4 linked regions of the Homo sapiens genome follow. The protein of the gene in region 4 purifies or fractionates together with the protein of the main gene of each other region. This does not show direct contact. Each region holds a gene or a part of one and is shown on either strand. Other genes may lie near its edges. The genes, in order: RCCD1, WDR54, ACTR10 and MAPK8IP3.

The links.
Region 1: the proteins of MAPK8IP3 (region 4) and RCCD1 purify together in Homo sapiens (co-immunoprecipitation; 3 studies listed by BioGRID and IntAct, with this or other methods). This does not show direct contact.
Region 2: the proteins of MAPK8IP3 (region 4) and WDR54 purify together in Homo sapiens (affinity purification with mass spectrometry; 2 studies listed by BioGRID and IntAct, with this or other methods). This does not show direct contact.
Region 3: the proteins of MAPK8IP3 (region 4) and ACTR10 purify together in Homo sapiens (affinity purification with mass spectrometry; 2 studies listed by BioGRID and IntAct, with this or other methods). This does not show direct contact.

Annotation. Positions count from the first base shown.
Region 1 is NC_000015.10:90,950,040-90,957,891, reverse strand, and holds the start of RCCD1 (RCC1 domain-containing protein 1), read right to left. Parts: upstream 3,009-7,852; 5' UTR 2,944-3,008; exon of another isoform or gene 2,009-2,943; intron 1,281-2,008; 5' UTR 1,158-1,280; coding exon 992-1,157; intron 780-991; coding exon 389-779; intron 289-388; coding exon 167-288; intron 1-166. Other genes in the region: UNC45A (protein unc-45 homolog A), read right to left, coding at 4,176-4,433, 4,582-4,737, 4,846-4,963, 7,277-7,392, 7,625-7,738. UniProt on the Homo sapiens protein: Plays a role in transcriptional repression of satellite repeats, possibly by regulating H3K36 methylation levels in centromeric regions together with KDM8.
Region 2 is NC_000002.12:74,416,951-74,424,743, reverse strand, and holds the start of WDR54 (WD repeat-containing protein 54), read right to left. Parts: upstream 3,015-7,793; 5' UTR 2,994-3,014; coding exon of another isoform or gene 2,928-2,993; intron 2,625-2,927; exon of another isoform or gene 2,592-2,624; coding exon of another isoform or gene 2,591-2,591; coding exon 2,369-2,590; intron 1,875-2,368; coding exon 1,812-1,874; intron 1,426-1,811; coding exon 1,359-1,425; intron 1,267-1,358; coding exon 1,213-1,266; intron 890-1,212; coding exon 762-889; intron 1-761. Other genes in the region: uncharacterized protein C2orf81, read left to right, coding at 3,184-3,201. UniProt on the Homo sapiens protein: Plays a role in the adhesion and fusion of the sperm-oocyte membrane through its interactions with IZUMO1 and IZUMO1R/JUNO.
Region 3 is NC_000014.9:58,195,259-58,203,155, reverse strand, and holds the start of ACTR10 (actin-related protein 10), read right to left. Parts: upstream 3,008-7,897; 5' UTR 2,939-3,007; coding exon 2,862-2,938; intron 302-2,861; coding exon 229-301; intron 1-228. UniProt on the Homo sapiens protein: Part of the dynactin complex that activates the molecular motor dynein for ultra-processive transport along microtubules.
Region 4 is NC_000016.10:1,765,192-1,770,867, reverse strand, and holds the end of MAPK8IP3 (C-Jun-amino-terminal kinase-interacting protein 3), read right to left. Parts: intron 4,909-5,676; coding exon 4,726-4,908; intron 4,649-4,725; coding exon 4,459-4,648; intron 4,340-4,458; coding exon 4,220-4,339; intron 4,146-4,219; coding exon 4,065-4,145; intron 3,965-4,064; coding exon 3,897-3,964; intron 3,720-3,896; coding exon 3,571-3,719; intron 3,305-3,570; coding exon 3,133-3,304; intron 3,064-3,132; coding exon 2,950-3,063; intron 2,800-2,949; coding exon 2,761-2,799; intron 2,670-2,760; coding exon 2,490-2,669; intron 2,392-2,489; coding exon 2,242-2,391; intron 2,166-2,241; coding exon 2,044-2,165; 3' UTR 517-2,043; downstream 1-516. Other genes in the region: NME3 (nucleoside diphosphate kinase 3), read left to right, coding at 102-219.

The sequences.
Region 1 (7,852 bases), on a different chromosome or scaffold from region 4:
GGCAGAGGAGGCCGAGGGTGAGAGGCATTTAGGAGTCATAACTGACTGGGCGATGGATGGATGAATTTGGAAGGAGGCCTGGGTAGGCCCCCACCCAAACTGGAAAACGAGGAGGAAGGTTTGCACAAGATCATGAGCTCGTCTGGAGAAGCACTAAGTCACTCACCACTCACACACACAGAATGCCAGCCCCCCGCGGCCACCTCAGCCATGACTAGGCCCTGCAACGCCTCCAACAGCCGTGGCTCCAGCTCTGCCTCCAGGGTCCCATGGCCCAGCTGTCCATGCCTGAGCAAGGGAGACCGTCGTCAGCTACAGTCGCATTAAGGGGTCCCGCTCCGCTTGCTTCTCCAATCAGCAGCCCTCACCTGCCCCCGCCTCCGCTCACCTGCCCCCGCCCCAGGAGAACACCTGGCCAGCAGCGTCCAGCAGCAACGCGTGCTCGGCGCCCAGCTCCAGCTGGCGTGCCCGCAGCTCCGGAGCCAGAGGCCGGTAGAAGGGCGCCCGCGGGCTCACGTAGGCACGGGCGCAGGGCAGCAGGGGTAGCCTCCCAGCCTGGGCCTCACCGGCCGGATCGTCTTCCCCTTCGGCCTCGGGCACCACATTCTGGGCCCACAATGGCTCCCCACGCAGCGCCGATTCGGCCGCCCAGACCTGCAGTAACGCCTCCGGCCCCGGCCCGGCGCGCAGCACCGCGAGGAGCCCCTCCGAGGCCCACGCGTCCTTGCAGCGGCCCGCCGCGCCGCTGGCTGAGCCCGACAGCTCCAAGCGGCCTCCACCTGCGGGGCGGATTGGAGCAGGGTGGCCAGAATGGAGGCGGCGGGGATGGGGGGAGCGGGGTGTTCCTGGGAAGGGGTCGAATTGGGGACCAACCCAGAATGTGGGGCTGGCGGCCTGAACGGGGGAGACAAACTGGACTGGCCACAGCGGTGCGGGGAGGCGACTGGGGAGCGCGGCTGGAATAAGTGGGGACGGGGCGGGGAGTGCTCACGGGTCACGAAAGCGGTGTAGCTCCAGCTCGCGCTCACGCGGCAGATGTCGACGCCCGCCCGCAGCGGACTGGGGCTGTGCACCTGGCGCCCGCGTCCGGAGCCCAGCTCCTGCCCGAAGCCGCAGAAACCGAAGCCGAACCAGGCCCCCGGCCGCTCCTCCGCCATGCCCGAGCAGCGCCCTCTGCCGGCCGCCGCCTGGCTGCGGCGGGCCCGGGGGGATTCTTGCGAAGAGCCCGCTAGTGGGACACTGGCAAGTCTCTGGCCTTCCAGGGGCTGGAGCTGCCTTATCTGTAAAATGGAGAAACTATCATTCTCCCGACCACAAAGGCAGAGTCCGTGCCACGAAGGTTCGCTGAGCAGGCGCCCTGACTAATGCCCTACCGGATTTACAAAGATGCTCAAATATTTAGAGGCACTTTCCCTGTCCTCCCTTTTGGCTCAAGCTCAGCGTGCCACAAAGTGGGTACGAAGTGGCCTGTCCTTTAGGCATTGGACTAGGATCCGAGCGCCCCCGACACCCCCACCCCGTCCCGCAGCTTCCCAGCATCTGGCACTTTATCCCATGTAATCTTGGGAACCAAAATGGTCGTTTTACAGAGGAGATTCTGAGACAAAGTAACCCTTACACACTCATACAGCCAGACAGAGAGGGGCAGAGCGCTGAAATCAGGTCCCACCAACTCCACACACAGTGCTCTGCCCCTCTCCCCACAGCGGAACGCAGAAGAGCGTTTGGGAGGCAGTGCCTCTGCAACTCAGCGGGGCCTTGGGACCGCAGCCAATCCACCTGAGTCCAACTGCGTTTCTTCAGTTTACAAAGGGAGGTGGGGGCGGTGCTGTTTGAACCTTCCTCACAGAATTGTAATAAATGCAAATAAAGGGTTTGGTGCGAGTACATGCCATGATAAACACACAGTATTAGCTTACTGAATCCAGTATTTAGTGTTGACAAAAAAATTATCCCTGGACATCTTACTGGTTTTGAGAAACTTATACAGACAGAATTTCAACTGTACCTTATCTAGCCATTTATTCGTCCAGCGAGCATTTACTGAGCGCTCCTCCTCTGCCAGTGAGGACAGCTGTCTGCTCCCAAGGAGCTAACCGTTAAATGGGGAGACAAACAGTCTGGTGGTTACAACAGCAACGCCAACTTCAAGCAGATTCGGCTGGAGCGGGTTTGTTTTTTTTTTTTTTTAATATAATAGAGACAGGGGTCTCGCTATGCTGCCCAGGCTGGTCTCAAATTCCTGGGCTCGAGTGATCCGCCCGCCTCGGCCTCCCAAAGCGTTGGGATTACAGGCGTGAGCCGCTGCACCCGGGCTGAAGCAGAATTGCATGGGCATTTTCAGGCCTCTTAAGTCAGATCCTGGGTCTCTCCTGAGACCCCAGTTCCTGGGCTCCTAACCCCTTCCGTGTCCTCTCCCAACCCAAGGGGGCCTCTGACCTTGATCTTGACCCTATGCCCTCTACCCTCTCGGGCAGGTCCTTCTGGTGGGCAGCCTTGGAGGAAACGCCGAGGCGCAGAGCGGCCGCCTCCGGAAAGGCCTCCCGCCCAGCGGGCGCCGACAGCCACGGGGAGAAAAGGTTTGAAGGGCGCGCGGCGCGAGGCGGCCAATCACCAGCAAGGGCGGTGACGTCGCCGCCCGGGGCGCGGCGGCCGCAGCCCTGTTCAACTCCCCTTGAGGGCCTCTCCGGTCCCGAGGCCTACGCCGGGGCCCTGCGGCCCGGTCTGTGAAATGGGCTGAAACCTCCGAGGGGCGTTGGACCAAGGCCCTGGAGGAAACCGGGGGCGTTGGACCAAGGCAGAGGTTGGGCCAGGTGGTCCCGCCCCTGCAGGAACCCGTGGGGCTGGAGCTCGGATTAGAACCACAGAGAGGACATTCATTAAGACTTGAGCTAAAGGTTTGGCGAGGAGTGACGCCCAAGACGGGCGGACCCCGCCACCCACCTCAGTCCCGGGACCGCGGCAGCTCAAAACCCGACACGCGCCGGACTCATGCCCCAACAGGAAGCAGCTTTTACCTTCCACGGATTGGCTCAGGACCCGTCACGTGCCTCTGTCGAGCCAACGAGCCTCACGCTGGGCTTAGCCCTCCTCGAACGTGCTGGGGTGGTGGGCGGGGCCCAAGCCGCCCTTCAACCAGGCTCAGCTGGCCACCAACCCCAACCCCCGCCCCAGCGCCCTCAGCGGAGGCCACAGAGGACTCCCAATATAAAGACAAACGTACTGAAGGCCCAGCATATGGGAGTCTCTACCCTAAACGACTTATTTCTTGGGATAGTTTAATATTTTTTGAGATAGGGTCTCGCTGTGTCGCCCAGGCGACACTTTGGGAGGCTGCGCTCTGGGCTCACTGCAACCTTCGCCTACCGAGTAGCTGGGATTACAGGTGCATGCCGCCACACTCTGCTCTTTTTTTTTTTTTTTTTTTTTTTTTGGTATTTTTATAGAGAAAGAGTTTTGCTTGTTGCCCAGGCTGGTCTCGAACCCCTGACTTCAAGTGATCCACCTGCCTCAGCCTCCCAAAGCGCTGGGATTACAAGCTTGAGGCACCGCACCTGGTGAGTTTCTTATTGATTAGCTTCCTAGGCTTACCCTTTGTCCCTCCAGTAGGATTAAGAAGCAACTCAGTGGGCCCTGGTTGGGGAATCCATTGGATTCCTTCCATGGAGGTGGGTCTGCCACTGTGAAGCTCCGTTGCACACTCACCCACGCCCAGCTCACACCCATACTCACCCACACTCACCCACTCAGAGACTCCCACTCACAGCAGCCCTCCCTGCCCAAGGACAGGGCACACAGTGGAGTTCTACACACTTTTATTGGAGGGGCAGGCCTGATAGCAGGCTCACAGCTGGTGAGGCTGCTGATGTGTGCGCCCTTCCAGATGCCCCAGGATCCACAGGCTGTGTTGGGATGCACCTTCCCCATTCCCAGCTGACTACAGTAGTACAGAAAAAGGGCCCCTCTGAGTGAGGCTGCAGGCAGTGCTGGCCAAGCAGGGCTGTGTGACTGAACGTGGCCGCTGACTCAGAACAGAGGACATCCTAGGGCAGCAAGCGAGGATGGGCAAGAGTATTGGGCATGCCAGCCACCACCAGCCAAAGCTGCTTCCGTCCTTACTCTCCGTGCCACAATAGGTAGCGTGTGCATGAGCCTTGGGCCCAGGGACAACCCCCTCACTCTCCATCTTGGTTGGGTTGGATAAGCCCATATTCCACTGCTTTGTCCAGGCAGGCTGCAGCAGCCCTTGTGACAGGGCTGTGGTCACCCTTAGCTAGCACTGACAAGATCTCCATCATCTCACTCTCCATCAGGGTGCTGGCAATCTCCCTCGAGGCCTCCACCATGTTCAGCACCACCACAGCACCCCGGTGCTGCAGCTCCTGGTTGGAGCTCAGAAGCAGGGCCTGCAGGATCTCCAGCCAGTGTGTGGTCTGTGAGAAAAACAGGGTAGATATGACCCCTGGGCAACAGGCTCAACCTTGGCAAGGGACACACCCACACACCCTAGGACTGCCCCCTTCAGCTGCTGCTGGGAGTTCCTGGTCCGTCCCTCCTCCCCCACTGAGAAGAGGCACTGACCACTTGGGGAATGCGGCTGCAGAGCGTGGGCCGCATGGAGGTAAGCATGGCCAAGCCCCCGGCAGCTGCCCGCTGTAGCAGCTCATCATCCTCTCCACTGTACAGCACCAGCAGCTTCAGTCGGTCATTGCCCTGGGCTTCGAAGAGGTCCTGCACCTGTGGCCAGATGTGAGGAGTGGACCAAGTCAGTTGGGTGTAAAGCCCAGCCAGGGCACAGGTACCTCTGCATCCCCGCCTGTCATGAGCACCCAGACCAACCCTCACCTCCTTGCTCATGGCCAAGTTACACATGCACTCCGTGGCTGCCCGGCGGATCATCTCATGCTCCTCAAACATGTAGCCTTCTATCATGGGCACAGCCTTCTCCTTCAGGATCTTCTGCCTGCAGGGCCACAGGAGGAAGCAGCAGGGATACGGTTTGGATGTTTTCCCTTCTAACCCTCATGTTGAACTATAATCCCCAATGTTGGAGGTAGGGCCTGGTGGGAGGTGACTGGGTCATGGGATGGGTCCCTCATGGCTTGGTGCTATCCTCGTGATAGTAAGTTCTCGTGAGATCTGGTTATTTAAAAGTGCGTGGCATCTCGGCCGGGCGTGGAGGCTCACGCCTGTAATCCCAGCACTCTGGAAGGCCGAGGCAGGCAGATGACTTGAGGTCAAGAGTTCGAGACCAGCCTGGCCAACATGGTGAAACCTTGTCTCTACTAAAAAGACAAAAAAAAATTAGCTGGGTATGCTGGTGCGCGCCTGTAGTCCCAGCTACTCAGGGAGGCTGAGGCAGGAGAAGCGATTGAACCCAGGAGGTGAAGGTTGCAGTGAGCCAAGATTGCGCCACTGCACTCCAGCCTGGGCAACAGAGGGAGACTCCATTTCAAAAAAAAAAAAAGTGTGTGGCACCTCCCCCGACTGTCTCTTGCTCCTACTTTCACCATGTGATGTGCCTGCTCCTGCTTTGCCTTCTACTATGAGTAAAAGCTCTCTGAGGCCTCCCCAGAAGCTGAGCAAATGCCAATGCCATGCTTACACAGCCTGTAGAGCCAGGAAGCAATTAAATCTCTTTTCTTTATAAATTACCCAGTCTCAGGTATTCCTTTACAGCAATGCAAGAACAGACTAACACCGGCAGCATCATCAGAGTTTCTACATCTGCTCCACCCCTGCACCCACACCCTCATGCAATCAAGTCCTGGGCTGAGGATTTCCCTTGGCAATGTCCAAGGACCCTCTTGCACCAGGTATGAACTACAGTGCTTCTTAGCCTTCTAACCAGGCCTAGGAAATAGCATAGGATTGTGGGAAATGCTCAAAATTAGGATGTAGAAGACCAGGGTGGTCGTGATGGTGAGGCTAACACCTAACATTTGAGGGTTTTTGTTTCTGTGTTTTTTTGAGGCAGGATCTCACTCTGTCACCTAGGCTGGAGTAAAGTGGCATGATCACAGCTCACTGCTGTAGCCTTGACCCCCCCAGGCTCAAGTGATCCTCCTGCCTCAGCCTCTCGAGTAGCTGGGACTACAGGTGCACGCCACCACACCTTGCAAATTTTTTTTCCAACTGTTAAGTTCAGGGGTACATGTGCAGGACGTGCAGGTTTGTTACACAGGTAACCATGTGCCGTTGTGGTTTACCGCACAGATCATCCCATCACCCAGGTATTAAGCCCAGCATGCATTAGCTATTCTTCCTGATATTCTCTTTAATTTCTTTTTTAAATAGGGACGAGGTATTGCTACACTGCTCAGGCTGGCCTGAACTTCTGGGCTCCAGTGATCCTCCTGCCTCATCCTCCCAAATTGCCAGGATTACAGGTGTGAGCCACCACGCCCGGCCTCATTTGAGTATTTACCCTGACCAGGCACCTGGATCATCTTACTTAATTCTCACCATGGCCCTATACTAAAGGTGCAAGTGTGATCATCATCACTACTGTTTTGCAGAATAGGAAACGGGCTAAGTAATGAGTAATATGTTCAAAGTCACAGTTAGTAATAAAACTAAAACATGCTGGCCAGCTGCAGTGGCTCACACCTGTAATCCCAGCACTTTGGGAGGCTGAGGTGGGCGGATCACGAGGTCAGGAGATCTAGACCAGCCTGACCAACATGGTAAAGCGCCATCTCTACAAAAATACAAAAATTAGCCAGGCGCGGTAGCACGTGCCTATAATCCCAGCTACTCAGGAGGCTGAGGCAGGAGAATCGCTTGAACCTGGGAGGCAGAGGTTGCGGTGAGCTGAGATCATGCCACTGCCCTCTAGGCTGGGTGACAGAGCAAGACTCCGTCTCAAAGAAAAAAAAAAACTAAAATATACTGATATGGCACAATGCTAGGGGCCAGGTACCCATGTAGTAAGTACTTTTAGGTGTATTTTCTCATTTTATTCTCCTCATCACTATGCCATGAGGTAGGTACTATAATCATCCCATTTCACAGAGGGAGAAACTGAGACAGAGCAGTTAAGTAACTTGCTTGAGGTTGCCCATTTGCAATCAGGGAAGCGAGGCAGTCTGACTCTAGAGTCTGCCGTGCCGTGCTGCCTCTTGGCCTGTCGCCTCCTCTCTAATGATGCGGAGCAGTCACTGTGAGGCTCACAGAAGCCCATGACCAAGGAGTGTTTCCCAATGTGTAAACTGCTGTGGGGGATATTCCGAATCCCGATGCCTGGTCCAGGCCCCGCAATCCCAAGGGACCTTACCGGAGCCTCTCGCTGATCCCAGCCAGGTTTGTTAGGGCCATGAGCGCCTCGAAGTTCTGCAGGCCTGAGCAGTTGAGGTGCAACAGGGAGACGAGGGGCCGGACCACCTCATAGATCTGCAATGTGCACCCCACCTGTCAGGGGTACTTGCCGCAGCCCCCACAAGCCCCACCAACCCTGCAGGGAGAAGCCCACCCCCAAGAGAGTACTGCTGTCTCAGGCTGTCCTCCCTGCCCCAGGCCTTGACAAAGCTGAAACTTCCTGCTGGTCCCAAAGGGGAGCTACAGCCCAGCCCACAGGCCATCAGGGACAGAGGGAGTGGAAAGGCCGGGGCAGGAAGACACGTACCCGCTCGCCAGGGAAGGTCATCTCCGGGTTGGAGGTGATGGTGAGCTTGGCAAGGGCCTGGGCTGCCTTTGTCTGCCCCACGTCCGTGCCTTCCAGGGCCAGCGGGATCAGCGCCTGTAGGAACAAGCCCGTCACTGCTCAGGACATCCCTGGGAGTAAGACCCCGACCATCGGGCTCCCCAGCCCTGACCGTGCCACCCTCACCTTCCTCCCTCTCCCCAGGCTTGA
Region 2 (7,793 bases), on a different chromosome or scaffold from region 4:
TAGCTAGACCCATCAGAAACCACCCCTACCACCAGGGTTCCCTTGGGAAGCATGAACTGCTTTCCTTGAATTTCTTCATGGAGTCCCATCCCCCAATAACATTAGGAGGGGGTGCATAATTGCCTCACTGGATGGATGATAAAACTGAGGCCACAGTGTCGTGACCTTCTGGAGGTCTCGTAGTGAACCAGTCACAGTCATGACTAGACCCTGGGCCCCTGCACCCCCAACACCAGGCAGCCAACACAACCTATGGGCCTAGCCCTATGCCAGGTACAATGGAGAATATGAATAAGAAAATATACACCCTGTTCTCAAGAGGTTTGCAAATTACTTGGGGAGACAAGAGTTGTCTTTTGAGGGCAGTGCCAATTCAGGTTTCAGCTAAGAGACATCAGTGGGAGCTAGAATATGGGGAAGGCTTCCTGGAGAGGATGGATGGCACTGGAGCTGGGCCTGAATAGGTGGGACTTGCCCTAGAGAAGGAAGCTGCACATTTCAGAGCTGGAAAGTATCTTAGAAACCATTTGTTCCAACTCCTCATTTCACATCAGTATTATAAAGTCTTAATTAACTATAAAATACTACATAAATGTAAAGTATCTCTGGCTTTATCACTGAACCTGGTTGCTGAAGACTAGGAAAATGTAGATTTGCCCAAAGCCATCCACCTGTTTAGTGGCAGAGCCAAGACTCAAAGCCAGGTCCCCTGCCTCCCAGGGTGGGGAAGGCTCCCAGATGGGTAGGGGAAGTCCACTCACCTGTCCCTGGGCAGGCTCGGTGGCAATGTCTGTGATTGGCATCTGGTGCCCAGCCAGCTCCTCGCTCAGTACAATGTTGGGACCCTTTGCTGGGATGTCAAACACCAGCACCCGGCCTGACCACGTTCCTGTATCCAGAACCAGTACTCCAGTGATGACTTCCTGACCCTCCTGGGTCTCCAGCCACCATACTCAACACTTACTCCATCCCAGAAACCTTAGTAACAAAACCCCCTCTCACTGCTCCAACGGCCATGCCCCTTCATTCACTAGCCTTGTCTTATCCCACCCTGACCCTCTGAACCCTTCCATGGTTTACTGGAGTCTCTGATTCCACTCCACTTCCACCCTTCCCTCTAACTTTCCACAATTTCCTCAGGCCCTCATTATTCTCCTGGCCACAGCCCACATGCCCCAGCACCCCTCCATGCCCTGCACTTGGCTCCCTCACCCACACAGATGAAGTGGCCACTGGCAGCAATTCCCCGGGCAAACACAGCCTGTACTGAATATGAAAGGGGAGAATGATCAGAAATATCCCCTCCTGCAGCCCTAGCAAACACTCCCTGCCCCCACCCCACTTGGTCCTGCAGGTACCTGGGGAGGCATCTCCAGAGTCCAGTGCATGCCAGTAGACCATGGTGTAGCCATTGGACTCGTACATCTGGAAGACCGGGGCAAGAACCAGGGGGCATAACCCAACTGACCTCTGCTGAGTACTTCACATATCCGTGTTAGCCTTAGCCCATTTAATCCTCAAAACAAATCTGGGATGTAGGTACTATTTTTATCCTAATTTTTTCAGAGGACAACAGTGAGAGTGAGAAGTTAATAGTGTAAGGACATACAGCTAGTAAAGGGGCAGATACTGGAGGTGGCACTTGGAAACTGGAAAAGATGGAAAGATTGAAGATAAGAAATAGAAAAAGAGTGAGTGGGCCAAGCATGTGAAAAGTCTGGAAGTGTTTAGAGGCAAGTGGGAAAGTCTGGAAGCCTGGCAGGGAAGCTGAGAAGGCTCTGGTGGGGCAAGCAGGAGAGTCCTCTTCTTACCTGTATTCCTCGATGTGAGGTGAGTACCAGCAGCACTCGGAAGGGGAGGACACACCAGTGGACCTGGAGGGAGGTGCATCAGTGTAGGGAGAAAATCAAAGCAGGGAAGATGAGTTTGTTTGTTTTTTTTTTTTTTTTGGGGGACGGAGTCTTGCTCTGTGGCCCAGGCTGGAGTGCAGTGGCGCCATCTCGGCTCACTGCAACCTCAGCCTCCTGGGTTCAAGCGATTCTCCTGCCTCAGCCACCCAAGTAGCTGGGATTACAGGTGCACGCCACCACACCCGGTTAATTTTTTTTGTATTCTTAGTAGAGAAGAGGTTTCACCATGTTGGCCAGGCTGGTCTCGAACTCCTGGCCTCAAGTGCCCGTCTCAGCCTCCCAAAGTGTTGGGATTACAGGCGTGAGCCACCGCGCCCGGCAGGAGAGGGGAGATTCTGAGGTTAGGACATGCCTGGGGAGATTCTGAGGTTAGGACATGCCTGCTCCTGAAGGTTTGGAGAGAAAAGGCTGGGGGTAGGACTGGGTTCAGCAACATCACTCCCAGCTCCATGCCTCACCTGAGTGATAAGTGGGGGACTCACTCCAGCACCCTCCTTAGCGTGGAGCTGGCGCTGGGCCAAGGGCACACCCTCAGGAGCAGCGCTGAGAAGCTGGGCGCTTGGTCCATGAACCACGCCAAAATACGTGAGGTTGCGAGCCGGCAGCTGCAGCACACTGAGGTTGTTGCACAGGGCGGCGGCCGAGCCTCGCAGGGGAATGGAGCGCTCCCAGCGGAACATCCTGTGTGGGGGTGCAGCCGAATCACCAGGCGCGCTACAAACAGACGCAGCGGAGATGCCCGAGGGCGGCTATCATCGAGCATTTCGGAAGATGCCTGAGACTGGGTCATAGGATGGGGTGCCCAGAGGACGGTGATGGGGGAGGGTCTCGAGGAGCAAGACAGGGGAGTCCCAGGGCTGTTTTGGGGCGACGGGGGAATCGCAGAGGAGGAATGGGGATGACACAGGACCACCCGATGGCCCCAAGCCCGCGAGCCAAATAAGTGTGATGAAGCCCCCAAGGCTTTCTCCCTCGGCTCGGATCCCTGAAGCCCCCGGCCTAGATCAGAGGTAACACCTGCAGCCCCAGATCGGCTCGCCTGACTCCTGGTTCGTAGGGTCCCTCCAAATCCGCCGCCACCATAGAGACGACGCACGTACGCACGGCCCTTGGGCGGGGTGAGCGGCCGGAACGTGCCGCGGGCGGCGCGGTTGCCGGGGCAACTGTGGGCGGGGCGAGCGACCCCGAGCCCGTGGTTGCCCAGGCGACTGTTAGGTGGCTTACGCGGCCCGGATGCAGCAGAAACACCAGCGTTGCTGCGACCGCGTTGGCGATGGCGCACGAAGGCTCGGTGAGCTTCAGTTCAGCTGGGGATGCGCCAGAGCCAGGGTCGGCCGTTAAGGTCGGTGTCGGGAACAGTGGGCTGGCTCTGGGCCGCCCAGTGCCCCTACTTGCTCCCGCCCACCGCGCGGGAGTTTAGATGACCAAGGAAGCCACGTCGGTACTCGGGCAGAAAACCTACACCTGCACGGTGCCCACTCAAACGCTTTGTTACACTCAAGCCATGAGGGAAAGGGTCAGTGGGTGGTGTAGAGCCCGAGAACAGGAAGTGGATTTTGAAACAGCTAATGAATGTAGTAAGTCTCTTACATGGTGGTGCGTATTTAAATGGATGAGCATTTAGAGAGGGAAGATAACAGAAAAAATCTATTTCGAGAATTTCAAGAGGAAGAAATATATTAAATAATTCAGAGACTGCACTTGAAAGTCAAATTGTTTAAGAGCCAATCAATTTTAAAATAAAGAAAACGGGGCCGGTCTCAATGGCTCATGCCTGTAATCCCAGCACTTTGAGAGGCTGAGGCGGGAGGATTGCCTGAGCTCAGGAGTTCAAGACCAGCCAGGCCAACATGGCGAGACCCCGTCTCGACTAAAATACAAAAAATTAGCTGGATGTGGTGGCGCGGTGCCTGTAATCCCAGCTACTCGGGAGGCAGAGGCAGGAGAATTGCTTGAACTCGGGAGGCGGAGGTTGCAGTGAGCCGAGATCGCGCCACTGCGCTCTAGCCTGGGTGACAGAGAGAGACTGTCTCAAAAAAAAAAAAAAAAAAAAAAAAAAAAGAAGAAGAAGAAAGAAAACGGATTTGAAGAGCCTTTGTGCAAAAATATCTCTGTCCCTTCTGGTCACCATCACGGGTGTCAGATGCGAGGCTGGGAGGGGAGGTCTAAGGAAACAACTCTCTTTACTCAGTCCAGTCAGCCCTGCTCTAGTCAAGCTTGGCCTGGGCTATGGGCCACTCCTGGTGCTTGCTACAGGGCTGTTCTCACTGGTGGATAGGGTTAATGAGACTTCAGGGATTTTGAGTTCTGCAAGACTTAGGAAACAGCAGATTTGGGGGGATAATGAATTTTAGGAAACAGATATGAGACAAGGTTTTAGCGGGGCAATAGGCAAAGGTTTGGGAAGATCACATTTGGAAGTACATTTTGGAAGGAACCAGGTTCAGGGAGACTGTTGTGGGGAATTGAGGGAGCTCCCAAGAGATTGTTTGTAAACTTTTTATGTCTCTAAAGTGAGTTTTGGGGACTAGTCTTTTTTTTTTTTTAAGTGATTACAAAAGGAAACAAACTCATTGTAGAGAACTTACAAAATAGAAAAGAGCATAGGAAGGAAACGTATCCTCTGTTATCATTTTGAAGTTTTCCTTTTGTTGAACACATAGTGGTTTACATATATGAGATCATAATTGATGTGTAAGTTTGTATCCTGCTTCTTTCAATTAACGTTACATCATAAACATTTGCTTTATGCCATTGCAAATTCTTTCTAAAGATTACCTTTAATGGCTGGGTTGGTGGCTCATGCCTGCAAGGTGGGCAGATCACTTGAGGCCAGTTCAAGACCAGTCTGGCCAACATGGCGAAACCCCATCTCTACTAAAAATAGAAAAAAAATTAGCCAGGCCTGGTGGCAGGCGCCTGTAATCCCAGCTACTCCGGAGGCTGAGGCAGGAGAATTGCTTGAACCTGGGAGGCAGAGGTTGCAGTGAGCCGAGATCTTGCCACTGCACTCCAGCCTGGGTGACAGAGCGAGATTCCGTCTCAAAAACAAAAACAAACAAACAAAAAAAGATTACCTTTAATCATTGCATAATATTTCAGTATATATAGCATGTCAATTATTTATTCTCTTTTTAAAGACATGTTTTCAATATTCTGCTATTATAAAAATACCGCAGAGAATTTGTTGGAGAATATATTTTTATCTTCATTTCAGAAAATGCCTTTTGGTTGTATTTATAGAACTGAAATTGCAGGGTTGAGGAAGTGAAAACATTTTTTAATGTCTTCATGCATACTGTTGCAGCATGGTATCACACTAAACCTTTGCCAATGCTGAGTATTCTTGTTTTTAAAATAATTCCAATTTGATGAACTAGAAATCAGAATGTCAATACTATATTTATTAGTCATCTACAGTCCCTCTCTTGTGAAATGTCATGTCCTTTGCTTATCTTTGGGATCTTAAATGGTTTTTCTTCTTATAGTTTAAATTTTTATTGCAATATAGCCCAAGCTGGACTTGAACTCCTGGGCTCAAGCAATCCCCCTGCCTCAGCCTCCCGAGCAGCTGGTACTGTGGGTGTGCGCCACTGTGCCTGGCCATTTTTCTTCTTCTATTTTTTATTTTATTAGTTTTTTTTTTCTTTTTTGAGACAGAGTCTCGCTCTGTCACCCAGGCTGGAGTTCAGTAGCATGATCTCAGCTCACTGCAAACTCTGCCTCCCGGGTTCAAGTGATTCTCGTGCCTCAGCCTCCCTAGTAGCTGGAATTACAGGCGCCCACCACCATGCCTGGCTAATTTTTGTATTATTAGTAGAGACGGGGTTTCACCATGTTGGCTAGGCTGGTCTCGAACTCCTGACCTCAAATGATCCACCCACCTCGGCCTCCCAAAGTGCTGGGATTACAGGCGTGAGCCACTGCGCCCGGCCATTTTTTTTTTTATATGAGCTTTTAATTTACTCGGGGATATTTATCTTTTTTCATATTTGTTGCAAATGTCTTTGAGAGGCTCTGGAGTCAGACAGACTTGCATGTGAATGCATTCTGACTTCACTACATCCTACTTGTATGATACTGGGTAAATTACCATAAAATGGAGATAAGAATAGTTGGTTAAAAAAAAAAAATGTAGAGAACTTTTTAAGCTCCCCTGAGCCGGGGCTGTGCTCTTCTAAGTGGGACTCCGAGCCTGGGCTATTTCTGGCGCTGGCGCGGCTCCAGGAAGGCATCCGCATTTGCGACCAGGGGCGGCTGCGGTGGAGACTGGCCTGTCCTCAGCGCCCAGCACCGCTGCTCCCGGCAAACCGGAGCATGCACCGCAGGCCAGCGGCCGAGTTCGCCCATCCCAGCCATCACTTTTCCAACTAGTCCTTAGAGAAGGGAAGATGAGCGAGTCGAGCTCGAAGTCCAGCCAGCCCTTGGCCTCCAAGCAGAAAAAGGACGGCACTGAGAAGCGGGGCCGTGGCAGGCCGCGCAAGCAGCCTCCGGTGAGTCCCAGGACAGCGCTGGTAGGGAGTCAGAAGGAGCTCAGCGAAGTGCCAACACCTAAGAGACCTCGGGGCCGACCAAAGGGAAGCAAAAACAAGGGTGCTGCCAAGACCGGGAAAACCACCACAACTCTGGGAAGGAAACCAAGGGGAAGACCCAAAAAACTGGAGAAGGAGGAAGAGAAGGGCATCTCGCAGGAGTCCTCACTGGAGGAGCAGCTTCCTTCTGGGACTGGACAGCTTTGATCTGCTCCCAACCCCCCACCTCCCACCCCCCACCCCTTCCCTACACCCACCATCACCACCGCCTCCAGCCACCACCCTCATCTTCCACCTGCACCTTCACCACCACACTACACAACACACCAGCCGCTGCAGGTCCCTATGGGCTGAGTGGAGAGGACTTTTCCCCTGGCCTCTTCCCATCCCTACCCCCTCCTCCCCCCGTCCACCCACTCATACACATGTGCCCTCCTGGACAAGGCTAATGTCCTGCTTAGCCGCACCCTGCACCTGCTGCGTCCCTGATCCCTTGGTGGTGACATTGCTCTCTGGGCTTTTGGTTTGGGAGCCACTTCTCTGCTCCTCCACTGTTGCCTCTGGCTTCCCATAGAGGGGCCTGGGAGGGTTCCCCTGGTCTTAAAAGGGGCCCAAGCCCCCATTCTGGCACACCCCACTCCACTGTCCTGGCAGCAGCAGGTGTGGCCAATGGAGGGGGGTGCTGGCCCCCAGGATTCCCCCAGCCAAACTGTCTTTGTCACCACGTGAGGCTCACACCTTTCATCCTTCCCCACCTTCCCTAGTCCCTGCACTAGGTTGGACAGCCCCCATTGGCTACAGGAAAGCGGGAGGGGTGTGAGTCCCCTACTCCCTCTTTGCAGTGGCCCCAGCCCCCTTACCGTCTGCCTGGGATCTGAGTACATATTGCAGTGATGGAGATGCAGTCACCTATTGTCCAGGTGAGGCCCATGAGCCCTGTGGCAGCTACCTGAGGTGGGCTGGGGCTGCTCCCCCAACCCTACTTTGCTTCTACCACTTGGCCATTTTCCTCTCCTCAGATGGGGCACCAATAACAAGGAGCTCACCCTTCCCACTCCCAGCCCTCCTGCTCCTGCCACCCCCCCAGGTTCTGGTTCCATTTTTCCTTTGTTCACAAACTACCTCTGGACAGTTGTTTTGTTTTTGGTTCAATGTTCCATTCTTTGACATCTGTCATTGCTGCTGCTAGCAGCGCCAAATGTTCATCCACATTGCCTCCTGTTCTGCCCATGATCCCCTCCCCCAGGTTACTCTTCGTGGAGAAGAGGGGCTGGGGCATGGCAGGCTGGGTGACTGACTACTCCCCTAGGATGCTGCAGCAGAGAGAGCAAGGGGGCCCAAATCCACCATA
Region 3 (7,897 bases), on a different chromosome or scaffold from region 4:
TAATTTTTGTATTTTTAGTTGAGACAGGGTTTCACCATGTTGTCCAGGCTGGTCTCAAACTCCTGATCTCAGGTGATCCACCCGCCTCAGCCACCCAAAGTGTTGGGATTACAGGCGTGAGCCACCACGGCTGGCCTTTAGTACTGTTTTAATCAATCTTACTTGAAGTCATATTTTAAAACATTTTATAGTATGGCATTTATTTTGCTAATATTTTTTTTTAAATACCTTAGGCATCCCAGCTCTTTTTATCACACTAGGAATTATACATCTTGGACCAGTTTCTCCAGCAAATCCACACCTGCAAATAAATGGAAAATTGAAACAACTTATAGTATTCTTTTAAATATTTGTCACAGAAACTAATTTTCTCTGTATTTGTTTCAAAACAATGGCCACAATAACATTTGAAAATACCTGATGTATTTTAAGGGATCAAAAAAAATCACTCCACAAAACTAATAATACTATTTATTAATGCTTGTGTATTAACAGAAAAAAATTCTATGAAATTCGTGATGCTGAAAAAAACAAATGTATTATTTTAGGGCAGCATTTACTTTTTTTTTTTTGAGATGGAGTCTGGCTCTGTCACCCAGGCTGGAGTGCAGTGGCGCGATCTCGGCTCACTGCAAGCTCCGCCTCCCGGGTTCACGCCATTCTCCTGCCTCAGGCTCCTGAGTAGCTGGGACTACAGGTGCCGGCCACCACGCAGGGCTAATTTTTTTTTTTTTTTTTAGTAGAGACGAGGTTTCACCGTGTTAGCCAGGATAGTCTCGATCTCCTGACCTCGTGACCCGCCCGCGTCGGCCTCCCAAAGTGCTGGTATTACAGGCGTGGGCCACCGCGCCTGGCCAACTTTTTTCCTAGTTGTTAATTTTAGCAGAATTTAGGCAAGACATATCTACAACTCTGAATCTGTACTACATTATGTGACTTCATTCATATAATTCATCTGTATCACTCATAATTCCATCATTCTAATATTGTTAGCTTCCATATTGGTGTATTCACTTTCAGTCTACTTCTTATGATTATGCATATATATTTGACATAGTTTTAATCACACTTCATACATAATTAACTCATACAGTAAGCTTCTGCCCATATTAACATAATCTTCATTGCTATCACTTTTTTTTTTTTTTTTTTTGAGGCAGGGTCTCGCTCTGTCGCCCAGGCTGGAGTGCAGTGGCACAAACTCAGATCACTGCAGCCTCCGCTTCCCAGGCTCAAGCGATCCTCCCCCCTTGGCCTCCCAAAGTGCTAGGATTTCGGGCACGACACTACCGCCGGCTAAATTTTGTATTTTGTGTAGAGCTGGGTTTCCCCATGTTGCCCAGGCTGGTCTTGAACTACTGGGCTCAAGTGGTCAGCCCGCCTCAGCTTTCCAAACTGCTGGAATTACAGTATTATTTTTAAAACCACATATTTCATTATTTTAAAAACGATGCTCTTTTCTTGAGTATTTAGGTATTTCCATTTTTGTTTCATGTTAGTAAAACAAAAATTTGCTAAAAACGTTGCTAAAAATGATCATCATACTAGTTTAGTCTTAACATCCTGTCTTCTTGTCCTGTCTAGTTTTTGATACTGCTCTCCTCGTATTCCCAAATAATTCTCTCCATCTCCTCCTATTCCCGTCTCCATGTTTACTTGCATCAGTGCTCCTCAAACATCTCAGAATGCAAGCCATTAGACTTCAATTCCTTTTTTTTACTTCATACATTTATCTTATCATCCTCCTGCTGTCTTTTTCAAATATAGCTTTTTGCTTATTTCTTCCAAGTACAGCCAAAATAATTATCTTTGACTAGAAGCCTCGAACTGTTTATTACGCTTTCAAAATAATTTTAATAAGAAAATATAAATAAGGAAGGGCCTCGCATAGAACAATAAGAGAATGTCATTAACCAAGGACTATGTTTAATCCAATTCTGGAGTTCCTGGGGTCCAATTTTTAAATAGGCTCTTTTAACCACTTAGTCAATAAATAGTTATTAAATACCTACTACACGTCAGGAAGTGCCTAGAGATATAAAAAGATTTTTCAAATGTTTCATTTTCATAAATACATATATGATGTAATTGCCTGTTACTTCCCTCTCTGTTGAGCCCATCACAAGGACTCTTAATCTAGGGTCCCAGGACCACATTGATTGTCTGCCAATTCCCTGAAACTGTGTATAAGTACCTTAAGATTTGTGCATTTGTGGTTTTCATCCAGCCATTAAAGAGATCTATGCCATCCGAAAGGTTGAGAACCTCCTCTCTATTGTTTACAAGTTGGTTTGTTTAAAACATGTCAAATCTAACCTTCGAGTTTAGGGGAGCCAACAAAGGATTTCCAGAATCTTATCTATAGGGTTTCACCTCTTAATGTGCCCAGTCTCCCTAATTCTTGAGCAGCGATAGCCCTGTCTTAAACATCTTTCCATTTTCAGCACCAAAATAAACTCCGTTCAATATTTTATGATGAAATTCGTCATCGAGCATTTACATTCGGTTGGCTGCCTTCCTCAACTGAGGAGCCCAGGGTAAGCGGGGTCTAGGTCACGGTTGTCATCCCCTACACAGATGATCCCAAAGGGTTTGTTGGGTTTGGGGTGATGACAAGGGGCGGCGACGAGGGCAATTCAACAGAAGCTTTCTGGGCCTCTCTGGGAGTCAGACCCCGATCCTCGGATTCGCATCGCCCAGGGAGGAAATAATAAGAGCTGTTATTTGCAAGGGCGCTGGTTGAAGAAAAGGGGAGGCCCGGAGCTGCCCAGCGAGTCGGCGATGAGGACCCAGGCAGTGCCTGGGGCTCTGCCACCCGCCCTCCCCTCGGGTCGAACACAGCTGGCGTCACGGCCACTCACTTGGTAAAGGCCTCTCCCAGGTCGATCACGACCGCCGTCTTCTCCCCGCCGCTCCCCAGGCCCTCGTAGAGCGGCATGGTAGTAAGGCAGACTGAGAGAAGAGGGTCGCAGTCTCCGCGGCCAACAAGTCTCGGCGCTCGCGGGGCGGGGCCGGGGCTCCGGCGCTCGGGCGTCGGCGACGGCGGGGGCCTCGCGCGGCCGCGGCGCGCCGGGCCCGGGCTGTCCCAGGCTGTGCCTCATTCCGCGTTGGACCCACCCTTGCAGGTGCTGCCGTCGCCAGGACTAGGGGAAAAGAGGCGCTGGCGGGCGCGAATCCGAGTGCGGGGGCGCGGAGGCCGCGGCGATCAGGCGCGCCGGTCGCCCTGAGGGGGCGGAGCCGGCCTCCCTATCCTTCCCTCCCACCACGCCCCAAAGCCGCACCCACGCGCGGCTGTGAAGAGGTTCGGTCTCAGCTCACTGTGAAGAGGTCACTGAGGACCTGGCTGCCAAGGGGCAGCCGAGAGACGACGCAATTCCGAACCTTTGATTCATGCTCTTGGGGGGCAGAAGATGCTGAGACCCTATTCTGTGCTAGGCGTTTTGCCTAATATTTAATCTTCTCAAGAAATAACAAGAATATGTGTTTTCTTATCTGTGGGGACCGACGCTCAGAGAGATTAACTTTCCCAATGTCCCACGGCAGAGCCAGGAACAAACCCACAGACTTCCTAATTGCAAAGCCTATGCTAATGATGCTTTAGAGAATAATACGTACAGACAATACTTTAGTTAGTAGTCTTTCTGAAAGTTTTTATTTTACTCCAGAATTAAGCAGCTAGAGTAGCGTCTGTGAATCTTGAATCTGTCCATAGAGGAGCGGTCGGGATGGTTTAATAGAAGAAACATTGAAGCAAAGGCCCCTATTAGGTTGGTGCAAAAGTAATTGCTGTTTTTGCCACTACTTTTAACATTTACATTACTGTTTACATCTTTGTCACTTCACAGCTTTCTGTGAAAATATTTTTTTCCTGCAAATATTAGCTCTAACTGTATCTATGCATAGGAGTGGAAAAGACTGTCAAAGGAGAGGCTGTGCAATAAGAAAAGAGGTTCAAGGGTAAATCGGTGAGGACTAGCAACATTTAGCTGGTGTACTGGGTTGAATGATGCCCCCCCCCCCAAAATTCTTGTCCACTGGGAACCTCAGAATGTGACCCTATTTGGAAATAGAGTCTTGGCAGATGTAATCAAGTTAAGATGAGGTTATACTGTATTAAGATGTCCCAACTGTCCGAGCGCAGGATCACACCTGTAATCCCAGCACTTTGGGAGGCCGAAGCGGGAGGATCCCTTGAGCCCAAGAAGTCTAAAGCGGCAGTGAGTCGGGATTGTGCCGCTGCACTCCAGCCTGGGCAACAACAAGAGTGAGAGCCTGTCTCTCAAAAAAAAAAAAAAAAAAAAAAAAGGCCCTACTCTAATGGTTGGTAACTAGAGTTAGCGGGGTAGTTGGGGATAAGCTATTTCCATAACAAAAACTAAGGCTGTAACAATGCAGAAATTTGGAATGTGATATTAGTAAAATTCATGTTTAAGTCCAAATTACTGATCAATGATCCTCCTTGAAAGCAAATTCCTGGAGACAGGAGAATGAAGTTGGAGTTGTGACGGGGAAGAAAACTTTAAGAAACGTGGGAAGAGATTAAATTTTTTGCTTAATAGAGTCAGATTATTTGAATAGGACCCCTTACTTGAGTTCAGATTCTGTTTCTGCCACTTTCTGTCAAGTCCCTAATACCTCTGATCGTCCACTTCCTTATCTGTAAACTGTTCTGCTGCTTCACAAGGTATTTGTAAGGATCAATTTGAAATTATGTTTCTGAAACTATTGAAATGATGAAGTTTGTTATTACCTATTCTATGTTTTCCATGACAGCTCACCAGCTGTATTTGTTAGCTAGGGACTGCCGTAACAAAGTACCACAAACGGTGGTTCAAGGAAACAAAAAATTTATTCTTTCACACTTCTGGAGGTGAGAAGTCAGAAATCAAGGTGTCAGCAAGAGCAAGGTCATGCCCTCTTTGAAGGCTCTTGAGGAGGATCCTTTCTTGTCTTTTTTTTTTTTTCTTTTTTTGAGATGGAGTCTCGCTCTGTCACCCAGGTTCGATCTCAGCTCACTGCAGCCTCCGCCCCACCAGGTTCAAGTGATTCTTCTGCCTCAGCCTCTGGAGCAGCCGGGATTACAGGCACCTGCCACCACGCCCAACTATTTTTTTTTGTTTGTTTTGGATTTTTAGTAAAGATAGGGTTTCACCATGTTGGCCAGGCTGGTCTCGAACTCCTAACCTCAGGTGATCTGCCTGCCTTGGCCTCTCGAAGTGCTGGGATTACACCGCGCCCAGCTTTTTTTTTTTTTTTTTTTTTTTTTAACAGAGTCTCGTTCTGTCATCCAGGCTGGAGTGCAGTGGTGCAACCTTGGCTCACTGAACCCCAGACTGGGCTCAAGCAATTCTCCTGCCTCACCTTCCCAAGTAGCTGGGACTGCAGGCATGTGCCACCTTGCGTGGCTAATTTTAACATCTTTTGTAGAGATGGGTTTCACCGTGTTGCCCAGGCTGGTCTTAAACTACTGAGCTCCGGTGATCCGCCTTCCTAAGCCTCCCAAAGTGCTGAGATAACAGGCATGAGCCACCGTGCCTGGCCTTCTTTCTTGCCTTTTCCTAGCTTCTGGTGGTTGCTGGCAATCTTTGATGTGCCTTTGCTTGTAGATACATAACTCCAATCTCTGCCTCTGTCATCACTTGGCCTTCTTCGCTGTGTCTGCATTTTTCACATTATGTACTCCTCCCTGTGTCTTCACATCACTTTCCTTCTGTGTGTGTCTCTGTGTCCAGATTTCCCTCCTTTTTTCTTAATTGTTTTCTTTTTTATTTTTTCTGTATTCGGCTGAACAAATTTCCCTCTTCTTGTTTATTTTTATTTTTATTTTTTTTGAGACGGAGTTTCACTCTTGTCGCCCAGGCTGGAGTGCAGTGGCGCGATCTCAGCTCACTGCAACCTCTGCCACCTAGGTTCAAGCAATTCTCCTGCCTCAGCCTCCCAAGTAGCTGGGATTACAGGCACCTGCCACCATGCCTGGCTAATTTTTTGTATTTTTAGTAGAGATGGGATTTTGCCATGTTGGCCAGGCTGGTCTCGACTCCTGACTTCAAGTGACCCGCCCGCCTCGGCCTCCCAAAGTGCTGGGATTACAGGCATGAGCCTCTGTGCCCGGCCTCCCTCTTCTTCTGAGGATATCAGTTACTGGCTCAGGGTCCATCTTAACCCAGTATGACTTCATCTTAACTTGATTACATTTGCAAAGGATCTAATTCCAAATATAGTCACATTCTAAGATTTCTGTTCACACGAATTTTGGGGAGGACACTATTCAACCCAGTACACAACCTAAATGTTGTTGTTCTCCATGGTTCTGCTCTTGAACCTCTTTTCTTATTGTACACCCTCTCCTTTGCCAATCTCTTCCACTCCCATAGATACAGCTAGAGATAATATTTGTTGAGTTCTATTTGCTAGCTCTCCTTGCTATATATGATCCCATTTATTCCTCACAGCAACTTTATGAGTTAAGTGTTATTGTTACTAGAAAGGGGTCTCAATCCAGACCCCAAAAGTGTTCTTAGACCTCGCACAAGAAATAGTTCGGGGCAAGTCCATAGAGTAAAATGAAAACAAGTTTATTAAGAAAGTAAAGGAATAAAAGAATGGCTACTCATAGGCAGAGCAGCAGCGTGAGCTGCTTAACTGCTTATACTTATCATTACTTCTTGATTATATGCTAAACAAGGGGTGGATTATTCATGGATTTTCTGGGAAAGGGTTGAGCAATTCCTGGAACTGAGGGTTTCTCCCCCTTTTAGACTACATAGGGTAACTTCCTGATGTTGCCATGGCATTTGTAACTGTTGTGGCACTGGTGGGAATGTCTTTTCAGGTGCCTTGACATTATATTCTTCATGTTTCTTTTGTTTGGGATTAAGTGAACTTGGACCTGTGGTTTTATAGTTTTCATCAAATTTGGAATATTTTGACCTTTGTTTCTTCAAGTAATTTTTCTATACTGACTCTTCTCCTTTGGGTAGTCCAAGTACATATGTTATTAGGTGGTTTAAAGCTTTCTCGTAGCTCACTGACTCTTTGTTCTTTTTTCTTTTTCTCACTTATATTTTTTCCTCTGTGTTTCTTTTTGTATAGTTTCTACTGTTTTGTCTTCATGTCTATTGATCTTCTCTTTTGCAGCATTTAATCTGCTATTAATCCCATCCAGTGTATTTTTCACCTCAAAATTGTATCTTTAACTTCTAGAAGTTCAATTTAGGTCTTTTTCTTTGTATCTTTTTTTTTTCTAGACAGAGTTTTGCTCTGTCACCCAGGCTGGAGTGTAGTGGTGTGATCTCCCCATTGCAACTTCTGCCTCCTGAGCTCAAGTGATCTTTCCACCTCAGCCACCCAAATAGCTGGGACTACAGGCACATACCACCATGCCCAGCTCTTTTTTGTTTGTTTGTTTTGGAGAGACAGGATTTTGCCATGTTGCCTAGGCTGGTCTCGAGCTTCTGGGCTCAAGCAATCCACCCATCTCAGCCTCCCAAAGTGCCGGGGTTACAGGTGTAATCTGCGCCCAGACACTCTTTGTATCTTCTATGTCTTTCCTGAAACATGCTTGTGTTTTCCTCTACCTTCTTGAATGTATGACTATAAATATAATTATTTTAATGTTCTTGTCTACTAATTCTTTTTTTTTTTTTTTTTTTTTTTGAGATGGAGTCTTCCTCTGTCTTCTAGGCTGGAGTGCAGTGGCACAATCTTGGCTTACTTCAACCTCCGCCTCCCTGGTTCAAGTGATTCTCCAGCCTCAGTCTCCTGAGTAGCTGGGATTACAGACATGAGCCACTATGGCTGGCTAATTTTTTGTATTTTTAGTGTAGACGGGGTTCACCATGTTAGCCAGGCTGGTCTCAAACTCCTGACCTCAGGTGATCCACTCGCCTCGGCCTCC
Region 4 (5,676 bases):
CGGGGACGGTCCCAGCCCCGTCCGGCCTCCCCCTGTTCAGCCTGCGTGGTACCCGTGCCGGAGGTCTCTTTCCCACGCTCACACGCGCCTCTTCCGCGCAGGAACCTGATTCACGGCAGCGACTCGGTGGAGAGTGCCCGCCGCGAGATCGCTCTCTGGTTCCGCGCAGACGAGCTCCTCTGCTGGGAGGACAGCGCTGGGCACTGGCTGTATGAGTAGCCCGGCAGATGCGCGTCACAGAGGCTCTCACACTCCAGCCTCCTCCAGGGCCCAGGTGGGCGGGCTTCTGGCCCCACCCCACAGCGCTTGGAGCATCCCTTTGGACGGGCTGCTGAACATCCACCTGTCTGGACGTTGCATGGAGGGTGGCGCAGGCCTCTCCAATCCCTGGCGTACAGGGTTTCCTGCCCGAGGAGCTGCTCCAGGAGCCTGCGCGGCTCGCCTGGAAACGTGCCAGGACACTGTCCTGGTGCCCAGCCCAACGTGGTCCAACGTTTTTTTATAATAAAGTCCTCGTTTTCGTTTCGATTTGGGCCCAGGAACAGGCAGCTACGACGTTAAGACATTTATTACATACAGAGCAGATATGTGGGTTTGCTTGCAGGGCCAAAGCCTGAGGAGAATCGTCACCCCTCCCCCAGCCGCCCCACTGCTCAGCCCGGAGTCACTTCGAGATCCTGGGGGAACAGACGAGGGAGCGGACATACATCACAGTGGAGGTGGCAGGGTGGTGGGGAGAAGCCGGCAGCGCAGCGGCTGCAGCCCTCGGTGGCCAGCGGGGCTTGTGGGGCAGCTCCCCAAGATCTGTGCTTCTCTGGTTGGGGGTGGGTGCGGGGGCTGGGCTGCCCTCATAAGGGCCTCCCAGACAGGAGTGCAGTGGGCCTGGAAGGTAGGAATAGGCCAGAGAGGCCCAGCTGGGCAGGGAGAGCAGTCCAGGGTGGCGTCTGCCCTCTGCGGGCTTGGAGTCGGCTGGGGGCGGCTCCATCCTCAGCCCCACGGGCCTCTGCTTGGTGGCCTCTCTGTTGCTCCCTGGAAGCAGGCCACAGCGGGCAACCCTAGGCACTTAGTAGCGTGTCTGGGAGCTGGGCTCCGTGGAGCCCCGTGCAGGAGGCAGGCCCCGGGAGCACATCATCCCCCATCAACCTGAGGCTGAGCCTGTGTCCTAGGACTGATCCCGGAGAGGCCAGGGGCCTCCCCTTCTTCCTGAGGCCTGGGCCTGCCCTGGCAGCCTGAGAAATCCCACCCTGGGGGCTTCTGGGAGGGACAGGACTCCAGGGCCCACTCCTCCAAGGTGAGTCTTCTGCCCAGGCAGAGCCTGGGGGGACACGGGTCAGAACGGGGCTGGCAAGAGCCTGCCTGCATGGGCAGGATGGGGTAGCAGTCTCTGTTCTCAAGCAGCTGCCCCAGGGAGCCGGGCCTCGTGCTTTTATGCCAGCTCCCTGGGCAGGGGACAGCTGGGGTGGGGACAGACAGGATAGAGGCTTGACGACGGGGAGGCCCCAGAGAAGGCCGGCTGGGGTGCAGGCACCTGGGCAGCCTGAGGCCCACCTCCCTGGGCAAAGGCTAGTGCCTGGCCCAGCTCCCCTAGGCAGAGTGAGGGCCCAGGAGGCAGGGTGGCCCCATGAGCAGCATGCAGAGGTGGGCCCAGGGCAGGCAGCCTCGGCGGCGGGGAGCCCCTGCCTCCTCCAGGGGTGCTGGGGAGTAGGAGGCCCAGGGTAGAGCCAGGACCACCTCGGATTCTGCCTGCGCTGGGCCCAAGGTGCCCTGGACTTGAGGACTCTGGGCTGGAAGCTGGCCAGGAGCTGCCCGGGAAACTGTCCCGAGAGCATCTTCCCCTCGGGTGGAAGTTCCCCTCCCCTCCTCCTCCCAGCTGATCCGCATCCCCGCACTCCCTGCCCGCTGGAGGGGCCAGACTCAGGTGAAAGCTGCAGGTTGAGAGGTTAGAAGAGGGGCGGCGGCGCCTGGCTGGCTACCCCGCGGGCCGGGCGGGGGTCAGGTGGTCGGGGGTCCTATGTACAGGTCGGGCCAGGCAGGGCAGCAGCTTCACTCGGGGGTGTAGGACACCTGCCACACGATGATGTGACTGCGCTCTGCCTTGGACAGCACGGGCTTCACCTGGCTCATGTCCCCTGCGCCCTCCTCCGTCTCGTCGTCCTCTCCGTCTCCTGCGGGCAAAGCAGCAGAGTGACGGCCAGGCTCCCCCCGCGCCCAACCTCAGCCCTGTCCCTGGGCCCCGCTCACCAATGCGGAAGTCGATGTAGCCCTCCCCGCCGCTCAGCACCAGCACGTTCCGCAGCTTCTGGCCCTCGACCTCCGAGGCAGGGGCAGCTGGCCCAGGGCCCTCGGCTGGGCTGTCCAGCACACTCCCATTCAGGGTGGCCAGCACGTTCCCTGGGATGGCAGAAGCGATTCAGGACAGCGGCCTCCTGGGGGAGGCGGCGGCCACTGGCATGCAGGGGATGTGGATGGCAGGAGGGGCCCAGCCTCACCTGGCACCGAGACAAAGAACTTCACGGCATCGCGGTGCCCATGGAAGCATAGCTGGGCCTGGGCCATGGAGCAGTAGGGGATGAAGCTGCTGGCCGCCCTGTCACTGCTGTCATCGCCATACACGTGGATGATGCCCCCGGGACGGGCGCCCTCCCCAGAGGTGGGGGATGTCTTATTGGCTGCAGGGAGAGAACCCAGAGGCGCTGAGCCCGCATACAGGTGGAGAGTGGGAGAGGCTCCCGTGAGGGGACACGAGGTGGCTGGGCTTACCTCGGAGCCCCAGGAGCTGGCCTCGGTGCAGGACCACAGCTGGGGACATGGGAGGAGCATGGGAGAAGAGGAGAGCGGTCAGCGTAGGGGCAGCAAGGCACCCTCCAAGGTGGCCCTGCAGAGCCACCCCGTGAACCCACGTACACCTCTGGCAGCACCACTGCCCCTGCAGGTGTGCAGGCCACTCACTCTCTGTCAGGGGGATGGAGATGACCACTCCGTTGCCGGTGCCCACCCAGAGCCGGCTGCCCGCGACAAGCAGGGCCGTGATGCGTACGAAGGAGAAACCCAGCTTGCCAGTGCCTGTGGGGGAGAGCGGTCAGGGTGGCTGGCCTTGAGCACCCCACCACCCCATCTGGCGTGGCCCCTCACCTAGCATCTTGCTGACGTAGGGCTCAATGTCCACGTCCTGTAGATGCTGGTGCGTGTGTGCATGGTAGAGCCTCAGGGTGGAGTCCAGGCGGATGGACACCCATACGCCATCGCCGATCCACGCCAGCTGCCGCACCTGGCTCTCCCGCCGCGGGTGGGCGTCAAATGACTTCTGTGGAGTCATGGCTGCCCATCAACAGGGCTGGGGAGAGGAGAGGAAGTGGGGAGCCCCAAACCTGCCACAGCTCCAGGGCCACCTGCAGTCCCCTCAGACCTCCCAGCCAGCGCCTGCTTTGCGCCTGTTCGAGCCTGAGTCATAGGTGGTACAGGGGAGATGGGACCCACGTAGGGCCTCGTGGACTTCCGTATGGAAGATGCGGGAGAGCTGCTGGCCAGCAGGAGCCTCTTCCCCTCCCCGGGGCCCTGGCCGGCACTCGCCTCTATCTGCATGGTCTTGGGCTGGATGACGTGCACCTTGTTCTTGTAGCCACACCACACGCGGTCGTACACAACAGCCATGCAGCGGATGGAGTGGTGCGGGTGGCCCAGGTCCATTAGGTGATAGTTGCTCAGATCCCACTGGCCATCTGGAGGGAGCCCCGGACACCTGCTCAGGCCTGGCCAGGCCCCACCTCTGCTCAGGGCATCGGGTTGAGACACCCACTGCCAGACTAAGGAGAGGCCTGGAACCCCGGGAGCCCCTTGGCTAAACAATGCCAGGGCCATCAGCTGCCACCCACACACCCCGTGCTGCCAGGCCCCACCTTCACCACGGTGGAAGATGGCCAGGGTCCCGTCCGCCAGAGCCACCAGCACACGGCCTTTGACATGCCTGAAACAGGAATGCGGTGAGCCTGGTTTGGGCCAGGCTGTGCCAGCCCCCTCCGCCCCGTTCCCCCGCGCCGCCCGGCCCTCGGTCTGGGGTCACCCACACCAGGCTCAGCACAGAATCCTTCAGCTTGATGGAGTGCAGGCACTTCTTCCAGTTGGCCACAGCCGAGTGCACATAGAGCCTAGGGAAGGAAGCGGCGATGGGCGAGGGGCTCACCCAGGACCCTCCCTCCACCTTGCCCCGGGCCCTTCCTACCAGCCGTTCTGGGCTCCCAGCCACATGGTGGGTGCAGCACTGCTGCCTGCTCCCGTGGGGTCCCCGCTGGGCTCTGGCTCTGGCCGTGTGCTGCTGCTGTCAGGCTCTGGCCCGTTCTCGCTGCAGGAAGAACGGTGGCTCCAGGGGGGGCCACGGAGCACGCACCTGCCCCAAGACCCCGAGGCCCTTCCCACCTCTGCAAGCCTTCCCTCTGCTCCTGCCCCAGCCCAAGAGCTCACCTGCCAGGCTGGGGGCCAGAGGACGGGGTCGGGGCTGGGTCAGTGAAGACGTGCTCTGTGAGAGGCCCGGGCCGCAATGTGGCTGTCTCTGGCTCGCTGGGCCCAGGGTCTGGCACCTCCGTGGCCTCTGTGGCCTCCTCTGTGGACTGGGACGGGTTGACCTTCCCGTTGGCGATGGTGGCCACCTCCCCTGTGTTAGGAGAGGTGAGCTTGGGCTGGGCAGAAACGTGGGAATGAGGGGATGGGGGAAACTCGCCCAGGACTCACCCTGCCCCTTGTCTAGCACTGGGGTGTCCCCTCGGGAGGAGCAGTTGCTCCGCGGCACGTTGCAGCGGGTGGCACAGCCCACCAGGGTGATACCGGCCAGCACGCCATCTGCGCCCGGGTCCTCTGGGTTCACGTCGCTGTCCAGGAACATCTCCCCGGGAGGGTAGTCGCTGTCGCTGGCCGCTGGGGAGAGGGACGGCCCGTCAGCCTGTGCGGGGGAACCCACTACTGCAAGGGCGTGCCCAGCACTTACACAGGGGCAGAGGAAGCCGGGGCTGGCCTTCCACTTTCCCAGCAGACCCAGCTTCCACACATGCTCCACCCACAGCCCACCCACGACCCTCTGCCTGGAGGTCTGGGACTCCAGCAAGCCTGCTCTGTTGGGTAGGCCCCTGGGCCAAGGGGAGCTGAGTAGTAAGACTCTGGTTCTGGGAGCAAACAACCTGTGATCCTGTGGCAGACCCTCAGGACCCCAGACGGCCCTGTGGTTTCACACCAGAGACCTGGCAGAGCCCTCGGCACCCCTTCGTCCTCCCAGTGTTGGGGCTGGCCCAGAACATCACCAAGGCTACTGCCCACAGGGGTGACACGAAGCTCCTCACCCACACCCCCATAGCCCCTTCGGCCCAACTGGAGGTTTCACATTCAGCATGAGGAAATGTTTTCCTGTGGTCTCCGAGTGATGCTTCAAGCTGCAGGCCGTGCCCACCCGTCACCCTCTAACCAGGTAAGCGTGGGGTCCTGAGTAGGTAGGGAGAAGAGGCCGAGGCTGCCGCGAGCTTCCTCCCAGAAACAGGGCCCAGGGCCTCACTTGACTGGGTGCTGCCCCTCCCACCGTCCACTGCCACATTCCCGTGTCCACAGGACACCCCGAGAAGGCAGCTGCTGTGTGGCAGGGCTTTTACTTAGCTTGCTAGTAAAAGGGAGTGGCGCCCGAGTGGAAACGCCCAC